2 separate regions of the Homo sapiens genome follow, and region 2 is linked to region 1. Evidence: fine-mapped expression QTL. Tissue or cell type: whole blood. Region 1 holds a variant in brackets; the other region holds the start of a gene. All regions are shown on one strand. Distances are between the middles of the regions.

Region 1 (8,107 bases):
TGGATCCTATAAGCATAAGTTTTGTAGGTTTACGCATAGAGACAAAATGATTATTCACTCTTTAGACACAGTAACATTCATCTTCCACTCCTTATACCAAAGCTCCAATTCTAACCTCAATAGGACTGAACTCTGTACCAGAGCTGCAAATAATTCTGCATGCCTTGGTGAGTGGGGGTGAGAGGAGGCTGTAGAAGAGAATAGTGCCGACCATACCATGCAAGTCCTTGTAGATATTTGGATTTTAGTACAAATACAGAGAGAAATCATTGTAGGATTTTCAGCAATGGAGTAACCTGATTTACATTTTCAAATTATCACATTTTCTATTGTGTAGACAATGGGTTAGACGAGGATAGGAGTAGAAATAGAGAAACTTGTTAGAAGGCTAATGAAGCAGCTCAGACAAGAGGAAAAGATGCCTCTATCATTAGTAATTAAGATGTAAAATGAACAGAATAGAGACACATTTTGGAGGTAGCACCAACAAGTCTTGACGAATAAAATATGGGAGAGAGGGAACTCCCAGATTTCTGTCTTGAATGAGTAGGTGTATGGAAGTACCATGAAGTGTGACAGAATAAGAGTCCAGAAATAAGCCCTAAGAAATTCTAACATTGGCCAGGCGCGGTGGCTCACACCTGTAATCCCAACACTTTGGGAGGCCAAGGTGGGCAGATCAGGAGTTCAAGACTAGCCTGACTAACATGGTGAAACTCTGTCTCTACTAAAAACACAAAATTAGCCAGGTGTGGTGGTGGGCACCTGTAATCCCAGTTACTCGGGAGGCTGAGGCAGGAGAATCAGTTGAACCCAGGAGGTGGAGGTTGCAGTGAGCCGAGATCGCACTATTGTACTCCAGCCTGGGTGACAGAGCAAGACTCCGTCTCAAAAAAATAGAAATTAAAAAAAAAGAAAGAAAGAAAAGAAAAAAAGAAAAAGAAGAAAAGAAAAGAAATTCTAACATTTAGAGGTCAGCTAGGATAGACAGAGACAGTGAAAACCCTTGAGGGGAGGCTATAAATGTGAAAGAAAAACCAAGAAAGAGAGGAGACAAGTGTATCAAATAGTATTGGGAGATCAAATAAAGCGCTGTCATATATGTACACTTACACACACAGAGACAGGATTAAAAGGTCTGACAAAAGGGAGGTAAAGTGGAAATAATTCCTCAGAAAAGATTGGCAAGTAAGGTGAGGAGACAGATCATTTCAACCACTGGGAAATAATAGCATGAAGAGAATGTGTCAGAAGTGATGTTTTAGGTGGGGATCTCAAGGCATGTTCAAATGCTGTTAGGAAAAATCCCACAGCCAGCCAGAAGTCGAAGATACAGGATTAAGGGAAATGACCAGTGGAACAAGATCAGTGAGAAGAAGAATGGGTAAAGGCTCTAGATCATATGTGGGAAGGTAAGTCTTTGATAGAAGGTGGCAGGAAGTCAACTTCTCAATAAATGGTAGCTTAAGATATTTCTTTTATTATTCATATTTGCATCATAGTCCACAGCTCCTGGTTTGTACATATTTGTATTGCAAGAAAGACTTGATGAATAAACAGTTCTAGCTAAAGATGAGGTCCTGAACTAAGTCTACCATCAGCAAAACCTGCAGCTGTTGTAGATTTTACTTACACTATGCTAAATGTTGTCCTCTGAAACTCCAGCTAATGTTGCATGCTTTGAAAAAAAGAAAAGAAATAGAAAACAAAATCCAAGTCAGTAATTGTGAAATGCCAGTAAAGAATGCAGTTTTGAAAAGTAGGGGTAGCGGGAGGAGCAATAACTTAATAAGAATCTTGCTGTTTGCGTATTTTCGATTTCTTGCCCACTAGGTGGTGGAACAGAGTCCCCATCTAAACGACAGTTTTTTTCCTCACAGGTTTGTGTTTCTCTCACAATGCCTACACAGGTCTTTGCAGGCCAAAGAAATCCAAGAAATTCAATCTCTTCAAAATTGCCCCTTGGAAAAACAGAGCGCTCGAATGACAAGTGTGGGGAAGGCGGGAGGCGACGATGCGGAGTGCGGAAACACAAGGACCAGGGGAGCTAAACTACATTTCCCAGAAAGCCACGGGCTGGCCTACAACCACCGCGCCCTCCAAGCCTGCTGGAAGCCTCCGTCTCGCTTCTCCAGTAACCGGTTTGCCGCTGTCCCCTTTTCTAAGGAACGTAGAGAAAGCCAGGGAAGGAAAGGCATTTTACTGCAGCAGCGAAGGTTTAGCCACTAGAGTGTCTTTCTCAGCCGTGGTTATTCCGACCTTCGCTTGTAAAGGCATTGGGAAACCCACGGCCCACGTGACCAGCCCGGGTCATGTGACTCCAGAACCCGGCAGCTGAAGTCTGTTACCCTGACAACTGGTGGACCCGCACAGACCTTCCGGGAAAGCGCGGAATTCAGAGGCAGAGGTAGGTGGTAAGGTGTGAACGCTGGTTTCCCACCCAAATCGCCCTGGTCGAGGCCGTGCTTCATACTCGAGCGAAGGGCTTTAATTTTCCAGGTCATTCCCCTTCTCCGCCCGGAGCCCACGGCAAATGCGTCTTTGTCTTCCCTCCAATTCCCGAACCCGCGCTTCTGGGGACGGGGTCGCAGCCAGGCTTGAGAAGCTTTTAGTGGAGCTCACCCCTGACCAAGCTATTCAGGCCAAGACCTTAACCGCACTTACCCTGAACTGATCGAAAGTGCAAATGAGGGGAAGAGGTGTTACTCTGCACGATGGGGAGGGTATTGTCCGGGTCTGCAAGCCCTCTTCCCCTCCCCCATCTCTACAGAAGAAAGCTGGGATTTGAGCTGCTCTAGGGAGTTCAGGAGCTGGGGGTCGACCCAAGGTTGGGTTCATTAGGTGTCTAGGGGAACGCTTTCCGTTGCAAATCACTGGATTCTGCTTGTGTTCAGCACATAATTTTTGTCGGTCTTCCCTCGCTTCAAAAGAAACATAGTACTGATTTGTGTACTCCATTAACTTTAAGTATTCTTTAAGTATTTTGACTAAATTACTAATTCTTACTAAATTCTATTTGTGTATATTTTGAAACATCCCCGTATCTGGATACAGTCTGCTTTACGAAACTATGCAGTCTGCTTTACGAAACTATTACTATGGATTGGTAAAATAACGAGCCGAGTGATAAGGCAGCACAAACTGTCGTGTGCTTTGCAAGAAAGAAACAGTCCTTTGGATTTGCTAACTTACAGTTTTTAAGATTCCCTGTGAGGACCTGGTTTGTGTTTGAGAGGTACTAATTAACACATGCACACAAACATAGGTTTGGGAAATATTGTAGAGACCACTCTTTAACAATTGGATGTTAACAGATGAAAACATAATTCTGAACGTTGAGTACAAGACATCCTGTCAAAGCTGCTTTTCCAAATCAGTTTGCTTAATGAATTAGGAATCTCTTGACCAGCTCTTACTGGTTAAAAAAAATTGTGCATATATACTGAATCATAACAAATGTCCGAAGTTTAAGTCTGGTCGTGTTCATGATCTGATGGATTTCCTCAAAAGATGTTTATGTCTCTTGTCATTTAGTGTTTCCAATGTTTGAGGTACTTTAGAATGTTTACTTTGGGAGGTCAAAATTGTTGACTATGGCTAACTGTTCCCAAGAAGAGCTAGATGAAGAGTTTGAACAGTTTATGAAAGAGGTAAGTTTATATTTTTAAAAGCTATATTGTCAAATTTGTCTCAAAAGACTCATCCTTCAATTCTGTCATCTCGAAGATACAGTTAGTCCATCACCAAACTCTGAATTCCCATCATCCCTCTAGCCCTGTCCCTTTTCTGCCACTGCTAGTTCAGTGCCATCATCTCAACTGGGCTATGGCAGCAGTTCTCAACTCATGGTCCAGCATTCCTTTCACCACACTGCAGTCAGACTCTGTTCCTCCCCAGTAAAAGACTCTATTGGTCTCCCATCACATGTAGAAAAAAA[A/C]AAACAAACAACTCCTCCTTACCATGGTTTTAAAGCCTTTCATGATTTCACTCTTACATATCTCACTGCCTTCATATCCCTCTTTCACCCACTTTATTTATTCCACAGTGGCCTTTTTTCTTTCCCAGACATTGCAAGCTCATTTCACCTTAGGAGCTTTGCACTCACTGTTCCCTCTGCCAATAATGCTCCTCCCTTACTCTTTACCTGGCTGGTGAAAATCTTAACTTAAATATCACCACTTCAGAGAGGCTTCTTCTGTTTATCCAGTAAAAGGTAAACACAAAGTCACTTCTTAATCTGGTATGTATTTAATTCTTTTTATAGCACTTAGCACATTAATTATTTTTCTTGTATGGGTCTGTTTTCTGCTTCCCATTATAAGAATGTATGGTCTGTAATGTGATGACTCTACGTTCATTGCTATTATATATCAACATGTTCACTACTATGTCTACAGTACCTAATAAATACTTAATAAATATTTGAATGAGTATATTAAATGGTTATACCACGTTCTGTGTACAGTCATGCACCTCATAAAGATGGTTTGGTCAGCAACAGACCACATATACAACAATGGTTCCGTAAGATTATAATGGGGCTGCCCTATAAAGGTGTATCTTTTTAATCTTTTGTACCATATGTTTACTTTTCTATGTTTAGATACAGAAATGCTTGCCATTGTGTTACAGTTGCCTGCAGGATTCAGTACAGTACATGCTGAACAGCTTTGTAACCTAGGAGCAATAAGCTATACCATATAGCCTAGGTGTGGAGTAGGCTATACCATGGAGCCATCTAGGTTTGTGTAAATATACTCTATGATGCTCCTATGATGAAATCCCATTTCTCAGAACATATCCCCATAATTAAGCGATGCATAAAACTCTATTTATATAAATGGAGGGGCCTTGTAGAGCATTCAAGAGAGTCACATTTTAAGCTATTATACGTTATACATTCTTGTTAAAAAAGGGAGTTTAATGTAGTACAAAAAAACTTCATTATCCGTCTCATGGAAAAATAATGCCTTCTTTGTAGAATTGTTTTAAGGATTTAAAAAAGCATCTACCAATTGTCAAGATGTAATAGGCACTTGGAATAAGTTTCATTTACCATTTGAAAAGTTGATTTTTTAAAATTTCAAATACAGACACATTTTGAAAATTAAATTTATAGGAATGATTTTTATTGTAAAAGATAGCAGAACAGGCCTTTTAGAAGATGTTTTTATTCTTCCCTCATTTACCACCCTTCCAGCACACACATTCTCCAACACTCTCCTTCCCCCACCCTTCTGTCTGTGTCTCTCTTCCTCTTATATCCATCCTCAGTTGCAATGTGTCATTTTTTTTTTACTGTGAAAGTCATGATTTTAGAGTCATGCTAACTTTTCTCACTTTGATAAATTATTGTTCAAACAATTTATTCAAAGACATAGTTTATATATCTTTATTTTTTAGGACAGTAGTGGTAACCAGCTTTTTAAAAATAGCTTTATTGAGACATAATTCACATACCATTTAATTCACCCATTTTAAATGTGCAGTTCTGTGGTTTCAGAGTTATGTAACCATCACCACAATCAATTATAGGAATTTTTATCACCCCAGAAAGAAATCCCATATCTGTTAGCAGTTACTCCATCTCCTTGTTCCCCCTTCCCTAGCCTTAGGCAACTACTAAGCTGACTTCTGTCTCTAAATGTTTGCCTGTTACAGACATTTCATAGAAATTGTATTATATATTATGGGGCCCTTTGGGTCTGGTTTCTTGTACTTAGCATGATGTTTTCAAGGTTCATCCATGTCGTAGTATGTATTAACACTTCATTTCTTTTTATGGATAAGTAATATTTCATTGTGTAGATGTACCACATTTTGTTTTTCCACCTGTCAGTTGACGGACATCTGGGTTCTTTCCACTTTTTGGCAGTTACAAACAATGCTGCCATGAACAATCATGTACAAGTTTTTGTGTGGATGTGTTTTTGTTCCTCTTGTGTATATGCCAAAGAGTGAAATTGCTGTATCATATGGTAGCTGTGTGTTTGCCTATTTTCTAAAATGACTGTGTTATTTTACATTTCCACTAGTAGTGTATTAGTTTATCAGAGTTCCAATTTCTTTTTTTTTTTTCTTGAGACTGAGTCTTGCTCTGTTGCCCAGGCTGGAGTGCTGTGGTGCAATCTTGGCTGACTGCAACTCTGCCTTCTGGGCTTAAGCAATTCCTATGCCTCAGCCTCCTAAATTGCTGAGATTACAGGCGCCTGCCACCACGCCCAGCTAATTTTTATGCTTTTAGTAGAAATGGGGTTTCACCATGTTGGCCAGTCTGGTCCGAAACACCTGACCTCAAGTGATCCGCCTGCCTCGGCCTCTCAAAGTGCTGGGATTACAGGTGTGAGCCACCACACCCAGCCTAGAGTTCCAGTTTCTCCATATCCTTGCCAACAACTGTTGTATCTGAGAATCAGCCTTTTTGTTGTTTTATTTCTATTTATTTTATTTTTATTTTTATTTATTTATTTATTTATTTATTTATTTTTGAGATAGAGCCTTGCTCTGTCACCCAGGCTGGAGTGCAGTGACGCAATCTTGGCTCACTGCAACCTCTGCCTCCCGGGTTCAAGTGATTCTCCTGCGTCAGCCTCCTGAGTAGCTGGGATTACAGGCATGCGCCACCACGCCCAGCTAATTTTTGTATTTTTAGTAGAGACATGGTTTCACCATGTTGGTCAGGCTGGTCTCAAACTCCTGACCTCGTGATCCGCCCACCTCGGCTTCCCAAAGTGCTGGGATTACAGGTGTGAGCCACCACGCCCGGCCTGTTTTGTTTTATTTTTAATGAATCATATTCATTAAAAATAATTAATGAAAGTGCTGGGAAGCACTGTGGAAGGTTGTTTAAAGTAAGAACACTTATCATGTATTAGAAGTCTTCATTTCTTTTTTTCTTCTTTGTCATGGCCCTACAAGGTCAGTAGTACCATGCCTATGTTACAGATAAATTGAAAAAATGGGAGGAAAGAGAAATGGAACACCTCAAGGTGATACTGAAGTTTAGAGAGTAAGTAAAAAGTGATGCAGCTAACTAATTTCAGAAATTCAGATGGTTTAAGGAATATTTTTTCTTCCCTCCTCCTGTCTTCCTACCTGTTTGTTAGTGAAGACAGTTAAGTTCTTCTTGAACATTTTTAAATTGACATTCTTCAAGTCACTGAGGTAGAGTTTTTTGTTTGGCAAGTGGAAGATTGTGTGTGTGTGTGTGTGTGCACGCGCGTGTGCGCCCTGTCATTTTAGAAGTTTAAAAGGTCACTCAGATAACAATATTCTAGTTGGGGAACTACATAGTATAGTGGAAAGTGGACAGGAGTTAGTCAGACATGGGTTTAAATGTGACTTTGTAACACTTACTAACAGTAGCAACTTAAGCAAGTTGCTTAGCCTCTTAGAGCTTCAGTTTCACCATGAGTAAATTTCTGCAGGGTAGTTTAAAGATTAAGTGAGTTAACCTGAGTGTAGATCCTGACATAGAGCAGGCATGTAGTAAATGTTGGTTTCTTTTCCAGAAAAAGTAATGTAGAATGAGATTGAAAAAGGATCAAGAGCAGAGTCCTGGAAAAGTCTGTTAAATAAATGGGCAAAAAGCCAAAGCTATTAAAATAGATGGAGGGGAGTAGCCACAGATCTGAAGAATAACCCGGAGGAAGTGATGCTACTAAAGTCAAGGTAGAGAGTTTCAAGAAGTAAGAGTTTAAGAGTTGATCACCAGTAGCAAATTCCATGATGTGATCAGGGAGGATAACTGACAGTGGTACTTTATTTGTGGCATTTCGGAGGCCTTTGGTGCCTGGAGGAGAGCTGTTTTGGTTGGGAACCAGATTATAAGGGGTTAAGTGAACTCAAGGAGTTGGTATATCAAGGAAATGTGATAGAGTAAAAGGGACGTAGGGATAAGGAATTTTTTTGTTTTGTTCTACTTTTTTTTTTTCAAAGTTGAGTAGAATGCTCATTTTTTCATTCCGCAATTGTGCCTGGTACTATGCTAGGCACTGGAGATGCAGTGCTGAGCAGGTGTATAATCAGAGGGAAGGGCGGGGAGTAGAGAGAGAAGGGAGTGAAGATACAGATATCAAATGGGATAACCAAGGAAGGAAGAACCTAG
Region 2 (8,089 bases), 370 kb after region 1:
TGGCAAATGCTTGTTTCCTTTCAAAGGAAATGCAGTACAAGGAAGCAAGAAAAACTTTTTCGTATCAGAAGTTCACTGTTTTCTGCATCAGAATATAATGGTTACCTAAGGAAGAAATACTATCCAAAGTCAGAATTATATAAGTTATTGTCAAGCACAAGGCATATTTTTGTTAAATTGTCAATTGTTTAAAATAACATGACTGTGAGGTTATGTAACATCATAATTGGAAAGTTCAGGCAACATTTTTTGAAGGACTTAATAAATACCACCTACCTCTTATGCATATCCAACAATCATCTTTTTTGTTGTGTTTCTTAAGTTCTTCTTCAGTTACTTCAATTAACCTGCCTTTTAATCCCGTTAGATCCTTTCCACTTTTGGTCAGTCGAATCCAATCCATAAGGCTTCTGCCCTGTTTTAAAGGTACCTAAAAATGGAAAAAGGAAGAATTAAATCTAGCTTCATTACTTTTAATTCCATTTTAAAAGATAATAAAACTCAAATCTAACACTTCTATAAATCCTTTTACAGTTTTAAGAGGCTGTCAACATTGTTTATGCTGTATTTGAATTATAAAAGGTAGGGCTTAGAAATTCTACCACACAAATTTTCACCATATTGATGTCACAGTACAGTAGTCTATCAGTATTCCTGGGGGACTGGTCCTAGGACTTCCCCCTACCCTATACCAAAATCCAGGATGCTCAAGTGTCTCATATAAAATGGCAAAGTACTGACATATAACCTATGAACATTCTCACATATACTTTAAATAATCTCTAGATTACTAATAATACCTAAAGCAATGTAAATGCTATGTAAATGGTTGTTGTATTGCATTGTTTTATAATTCTTATTTTTTTATTGTTGTATTGTTATTTTTAATTTTTTTCCCCAAATATTTTTGATCTAAAGTTGGTTGAATCCTTGGACGCGGAACCCAGGGCTACACAGGGCTGACCATATAACAGGAATGGTATTGAACCAGAAACTAGAAAAGAGGTTCTGGTCCTGGCTCTGACATTAATATGTTACAGTTAACCAGTTTGGACCAAAATTTCTTCACCTTAAAAATCAAAGAGATTTGACAGAAGAAAAGGTAAAGAGACAATTAACTATAGTTGATTTTCTGGACTGTCAAGATAAACAGACTATTAGAAATCATTAGATAGCAATCTTATCTAAGAATCCATTGAGTAACAAAGTTTATCAAATAATGGAAAATAAAACTTGTAACACTGTAGGGAAGGGGTGGCAAACTATGGCCTGTACCTGTTTCTATACAGCCCTTGAGCAAAGAATCGTCTTCACATGTGGTGGTAAAGAGCCTGAAACCTTATGAGGCTCTCAAAGCCGAAAACACCACCTGGCCCTTTGCAGAAAAAAAACTGCCAACCCTTGCCTAGGGAACTTAGTAACAGGATGGTTTGGGTTTTTATTTTGTTTTGTTTTATAAAACACATTTTCAAAGTTTTCAGACGAGAAGTATTATTAGTACTTTGACCAGAACATTTTCAAGATATCTCTATGGAACTAAGCTTGTCTGACTAATTTGTAACGTAGTAACAGAAGAATGTTTAATGTAAAAGCAGACACATTCAAGGATGTTTACATATCTCACTTTCCTGAATCATATCTATTTTAGACATCCATTTACTCCCAAAGTAACCAAGTTAATAGGTCTGTGGTGCCTTTCACATTCTATCCTATCAATCTACATCATTCCATTCTGGCTATCACTGAAACTCTAGGTCTCTTGATCCCAATAAATGAAGTGTGAGAAAATGACCTTTCCCATCCCAAACTAAAATCACTCACCTCTCTCCATTCCATAATCCACAGGATAGTTAAAGCAATCTTTCAGAAATGCAAATCTAATCACAGGCTCTCCCTCCTTCAGTGGCTCCTCAGGTCACCTTACAACAACGTCTCTAAATTCCCTAGGGATTTACCAGGTCTTCACAATCTGGTCACAGTTGACTGTACTAGCTCCATGTTCTAACTTTTGCTCCTTTCCATTATATACTTTAGCCAAATGGGAACTGATTATTTGATTCCTTTATTGCTGTCAAGTACTTGCTTATAGTAGTGTTGCTTTCCCTGCATGGATCAACCTCACTCCAACTCCCATTAATTCCTCTGGAAGGCTTCTCTGATCCTCAACTCCTTAGTGGTCATACCACCCTGTTGTAGTACTTATGACTTTATAACTGAATGTTCACTATTTCATGCAACCTATGAGACTAAACACCTTGAAATCAGAGACCAAAAACTCCAGCATATGGTAGGTTCTCAATAAGTATTTGTTTACCAGTATTAATAGAAATAATAACTATCATATGTTGAGTGCATATTCTGTGTCACACTCAAGTCTGTGAGATCTGAATAAAAGCCTCAGGACAAGTAGCATTTACTGGGTGCTTACCAAGGCTGTGCTAAGAGAAACATTATCTCATTGAATCCTATGAACAATCCTATAAAATGGGTACTGTTATTCTCATTTACATCTGAGGAAACAGACTCAAAGAGATTAACTGGCAGATATGGTGAAAGAATCTAGGTCTTTCTCACTTCAAAATCTGTGCCTTTAAAAAATTACAATAAGCCTTCACTTAAGCTAGTCACTAGGTGCTTGGAAACTAAACTATGTACAACGAAACTAATTTTACCGTGGGTTAATTGACAAACAAAATTTCCTGCAGCATATTTCTGGTCACAAAAACATCACCAGACTTCTAAATAAAGACCAAAATACTTCTAATATTAAACACTGAAAGAAATGTTAGCTATATATACATTTAAGAAAGATTAATTAAAAAACAAGTAAGATAATTATTTACCCAACTATTCCAGTTCAATGTCACAGGTAGTCAGAGCCTATCCCAGTAGCTCAGGGCACAAGGCAGGAACCGACCTTGGACAGGATGCCATCCTATGGCAAGGCACACTCATACACACCCAATATTCACACAGACTGGGACCATTTAGACACACCAATTAACCTAACTTGCATATCTTTGGGCTGTAGCAGGAAACCAGAGTACCCAGAGAAAACCCACGCAGACACAGAGCATGCAAACTCCAAAGACAGTGGCCCTGGCCAAAACGAATTTTTTTTCTCATCAATATTATAACTAAATGCTGTTGAATGAAACAACACTATTTGAGAACCTTTTGTATAATACACGACCTTCCCAACTTGGTTCTATTTTCTCAACCTCTACCCATTTCATCCAAACCTGACTCAGTTTTTACATTCTCAGCATCATCTTGTTTCACAAAGAAAAGAGGAAGAAGACTGGAGTCTGACTTTTCCTTAGAATTGCACAATAATCTTATTTTGTTCTCTTTTTGGACCAAAAACTCACCTTTGCCATCGCCCCCTGTGTGACTTTTTGTCTTTGCTTCTAAGTTTTCTCCTTTAAATGGATGCTAAGAACACAGTTGGTATTTTTAACGAAGAAGGGCAGTAACTCATATTCTAATTCAGAGATTCTTTCTGGAAAGACTGTTATTCAGTCAAGTATTTAGCTTCAAGAAATAGGTCAAAAACCAATGAGAAAAATATACATGATTGGATGGCTAGATGATTGATATATGAATCAGTAAATGAAATTTCACAGCAGAACCACAACACAAGCCTACGCAATTTAGGGCAATATTTCTTAGCCAGTTTCCTTTTCTGCGAAATAGAGACAATAAAAGCTTTCACTTCAAAGGATAATTGTGAAAATTAAAGTTAATACATGCAAAGCACTGAGAATATACACGGCCACCCGTAAGTACTTAAGAAATCTCTGGAAAGCTAATGAAAACCACAGATCCCTGAACCTATATTCATTCTGAACTAGAATCAGAACGCCAGGTCTAAGTGGAGAAAAATAAGAAAATCGATAAGGGTTCCAAACGATGCTAAGACTCAAGAGTTAACCGAGTGGCCCAAGTTAAGTGGAAGTGTCACAAACGAAAGATAAAGATATGGTTACAGAATGAGGAACTAACAAATAGGAACAAACAACATTCGCAAAAGAACAAAGAACACAATTTTTATTGAATTCTGCAAATATAAAATATATCTGTACAGTATTCCACCTGTTGCTAACAGCAACTGTGCTCAACAAGAACTCAAGAGTATTATTATATTTGCTTCGAAGTTAGCAAGTGATACTAGTAGAAAAGGCAATGACAAAACAATCAGGTACCAGAGGAAGAAAGAAAGGCAGTATGTCTTGGATAGTGTCTGTAAACCTGACCTAGCTCCCCAACTCCAGAAGTCCCCATCCTTGCACGGACGGTCACTGTCGCCACTGCCAAGCCTTTCCCTCCTGCGAGGGAACCCACATCGAGTGATGTGGTACAACTCCTTCAGGCAGTGAAGAACAAAAGACCAGGGAGAAGATGAGGTTGAGGGAAGGCGGCTAATACCGAGAGCCTATAATACCGCAAACACAGTGCCTGGCTCTGTCATATAAATTTAAATCGCGGGAAAGGACTTGGAGGAAGGGAACGGATAGAGCGGGATAAAGGACCAGAAAGAAGAGGGACTGCTAGGGGAAAGGGAGGAGGTAAGGAGAGTTTAGGGACTGTAGACAAAGTGGGATCAGAAAGAGGTTGCAGGCAAGGACAGCAGGGAACGACAGCTTAGAGAGGGGTGCAGGAGCTGGGAGTTGGGGCGGAAGAAGAGAACACACTGCCAGAGCTCGAAACGCAGCGAGGGGAGAGACTCACGGAGCCACCCGCTTACCTTGCTACGCCCCCCGGAGGCGACACGCTGCTGCGACCTGGGGGCCGGGAAAGACTGGGAAGGGACGTTCAGCATCTTCAAACCCCGGCCCCGGGCCCTGCCCGGGGATCGCCGCCAGACGGGACAGCACCTCCAGCTCCGGCTCTGTGGCCGGGCAGAGGCCAAGCCCCCGACCCACTTCCGGGGTCGCCAGGGGTGAGGCGCATTCTGACGCAGCACGTCCGCGGAGGGCGGAGCCAACGGGACGGAGGGAGGGCCGGCAGGGAGGAAGTACGCATGCTCAGCTAGTTCCGCATCCCGAACTTCAGCACCGGAGCAAGGTGACAGCTATTTCGTGGAAAGATTAGAGAGTGAAGCTGTTCCTTAGCCTTGGTGCTGACCGAATGTGGGAACAAATTCTTAGTCCTGTTAACCCGGAACAGCAATGTCTGTTCATTGTTAAGCAGTACCATCACACTACTTGAAATATGGACTAAAACACACTACTTGAAATATGGACTAAAACGAATTTTAGTTTCTCTGAAATTCTTTCCTGTAAGGCACTAGGCTGTAATGCAAAGAGCATCTCACACCTTTAAGAGCAAAAATATCAAATGTCAACAGCCACTACTGTGGGGTAAGAAGAAAACCTCACCTTTAATCATCCTTAAACTTCACCTTTAAGCATGCTGAGGGCTAATGAATGCGCGAAAGACGTTAGTAAAGTCACCTTCTGCTCTATTCACCCACTCACAAATTCTCCCTCCTTATGTAACTTCCTGTCTTCACTGGGAATTGTGTACTGATGCAGCTCACCTCCAGCTGTGGTGATGAAGTAACGTTTAAAAGTCAGATTTGGTTTGCATGCCATCCCTGCACTTAATGACTGAGCTGTCTTATGCAAGTTACTTTAGTATCTCAAAGTCTCATTTTCCCCATCTGCATAATGGGTTTATTAAAGATTAAAGGATCATGTGTAAACTACATACTGCAGTGCCTGATTAATATTAGGTACTGAATAAGTGGCAGTGGCTGTTTGTGCTATTCCAACATATTAATGGGAAAAGGACCAACACTGTGCAGGTAAACACCAGGCTCTAATGCTCAAAATCTGATGGTTTTTGTTTGTTTGATTGATTGTTTTGTGTGTCCCTTGGGGAACACATAGATCTTGAGAGTAGAATCCAATAAGGGAGAAAGTTTTCAGGAGAAGAAACATAGTTCTAAATAATCCTCCCCATCCTCCTTTAATTACTAATTTTTCCTAACTCTGAACATATTGTCATGCTTTAAACTTTCTCTGTTTAACTACTTAGTTCTTAAAGTGCCTAAAAAATCAAGGTTATGTTTGCAGAATCAGAAGAAAAAGTGTGTGACTATATGTGGCCATTCAAATACAAGCATTCAAATAAGGTAGCCACCTATGACATTCACCTCTATCCATTTTTATTTGCAATTGAAATGCTTATTATGAGAAGACTGAATTTGAGCTAAAAGAACCTCATGACTATAATTAACTGTATTACTTTGACTTTGCAAATTGCTTCTGTGTTCTCTCTCATTAAATGATGACATATTCTTCTAGAGTCTACACAAGAAAAACTAATCACTGAGATTTATTTCACTTCTCGTGAGAAAACTTTTACATAAGAATATCAAAAGCAGAGAACCAGAGCAAGGAAAAGTTAATATTGTTGAAGAATGTTCCATGCTTTCCAAATTTCTTAGCTCCCCTTTGTACAGAAATGGAAGATGCTATCAACTTCTGGCCTTTAGACTCCACTTTTTTAGACTCCATATCAATCACTCAAATTTAAACGTTTTGTTTTAATTCTAGGGATCCCTCAATGTAGTACATTAAGTATTAAACATCCATACTATTTTACTACTGGATTTAAGGACTGAAGAGGAGTATTAAAATATGAGTTACTTTGCTCATCATTTATTTAAAATATCTATAATTTAAAAGCCCTAAGATTGATTCCCTTTTTCAATTACAGGTAATGATTTAATGTGTTTTTCTCCATCTGCTAAGAAATCTTTACTAATAAATGAGTGATTTCTAACATAAGTCTATTTTCTTCATTATCTAATAAGATAACATTGATATGTAACTACAACATCCAACTGGCATCAGTAGGAAATAGCAGATGTTAAAAGATTCAGTCTTGAGAATTAAATACTGTCATTCTTTGCAAAATTATAACTAAATATAAATGTGCAATTTAACGAAAAGAAAAATGTATTCTTTGTAAGCCCCAAATATTTATAATACAATCAAGACATTTGTAGATGGCACCTGTTTTAGATTCCAACATTCAATTCTAGTGTAGGGATAAAGAAAAGGCCAAATACCAGAATAATTACAAAATATTTCATTTTATTAATAATTTATATACAAATAAATTAGTTTAAAATAATTATGATACATTTGTACACTAAATTTAAACCCCACAAGCTTTGGATATAATCAAAAGTAGCTAATCAGATTAATTTTCACAGGTCAGATCCTCAATTTCATCTTCGCTATCAGAATCTTCATAAAATGAAATTGTGGCTTGAATTGGAAAATTTTTCAGAAGAGCTTCTGCTTCTTGATATAAGTAATCATAACATTTTGATTTTGGCCAAAATAGTCTGAAAGAAGCAGACAACATGTTTTATTTTTTCACATTCAGGATCTTTAAACTCATGAAATGGTCAAATTTCAAGAGCTCCATATATTTAACAATTGACTTATACATTTGGATATAGCCTTAAGATACAGAGTTAAAATATGCTACTATCACAGCCTTCATGGAATCTACCTGCCCAAGTATCAATAATTGTTTGATTATTGTAAATCTTTATTCAAGCTGTAAATTGGATCAAACAAATTTACACTAAACCCTGGATATGCATAAGATCAATGTTTACCTTACTTTGTACATTATGGATATATTTATTCTTATAATATATAGAAGATTTGTCTTCCAGTTTCTAAATTCCTTTGGAAAAAATGAATTGAGTTCTACCACTACATTAAAAACTTTAATGATAGCCAGCTTTATAAAGATGACAAAATATTATGCACCTTACAAAAAGGTGGAAATAACCTATTATCTTATTTAAAACTCACAGATTTAACTCTTATAGAAGTAGACAACGTAAGTTTAAAAATGTATAAAAACCAGTATTTTAAAATTTTTGTCTATGCACTCACAACTTGAGGCATAGAAAGACTACTTCTGACCTCAACTTTGATTCTATGTGCCTGTCTTCTCCCCATTCAACTAAATTTGTGAATATCATATGAAATGTTGAGAAATTATATATGTTTTATACAAATAACTGGCATGTAAGTATTATTACCTCAGAATTTCA

What was found. PIP is the estimated chance that this variant, and not a neighbour inherited with it, causes the effect.
Region 2: it holds the start of CYB5R4, and the variant in region 1 is fine-mapped to the expression of CYB5R4 in whole blood (INTERVAL, PIP above 0.99).

What each region holds. Positions count from the first base shown.
Region 1 is chr6:84,221,880-84,229,986 of GRCh38, reverse strand. CEP162 (centrosomal protein 162) reads left to right here and starts at 2,344. Exons shown (of 27, transcript NM_014895.4): 1 at 2,344-2,407; 2 at 3,535-3,650. The coding sequence starts at 3,594. RefSeq lists enhancers at 1,869-2,028, 1,930-2,430, 2,431-2,931. The variant A/C (reference allele first, on the strand shown) is at 3,938.
Region 2 is chr6:83,856,516-83,864,604 of GRCh38, reverse strand. It overlaps CYB5R4 (cytochrome b5 reductase 4), which reads right to left and starts at 4,916. Exons shown (of 16, transcript NM_016230.4): 1 at 4,748-4,916; 2 at 277-430. The coding sequence starts at 4,822. RIPPLY2 (ripply transcriptional repressor 2) reads right to left here. Exons shown (of 4, transcript NM_001009994.3): 4 at 7,090-7,363. The coding sequence ends at 7,216. It overlaps RIPPLY2-CYB5R4 (RIPPLY2-CYB5R4 readthrough), which reads right to left. Exons shown (of 18, transcript NR_174604.1): 4 at 277-430. RefSeq lists a silencer at 4,796-4,845.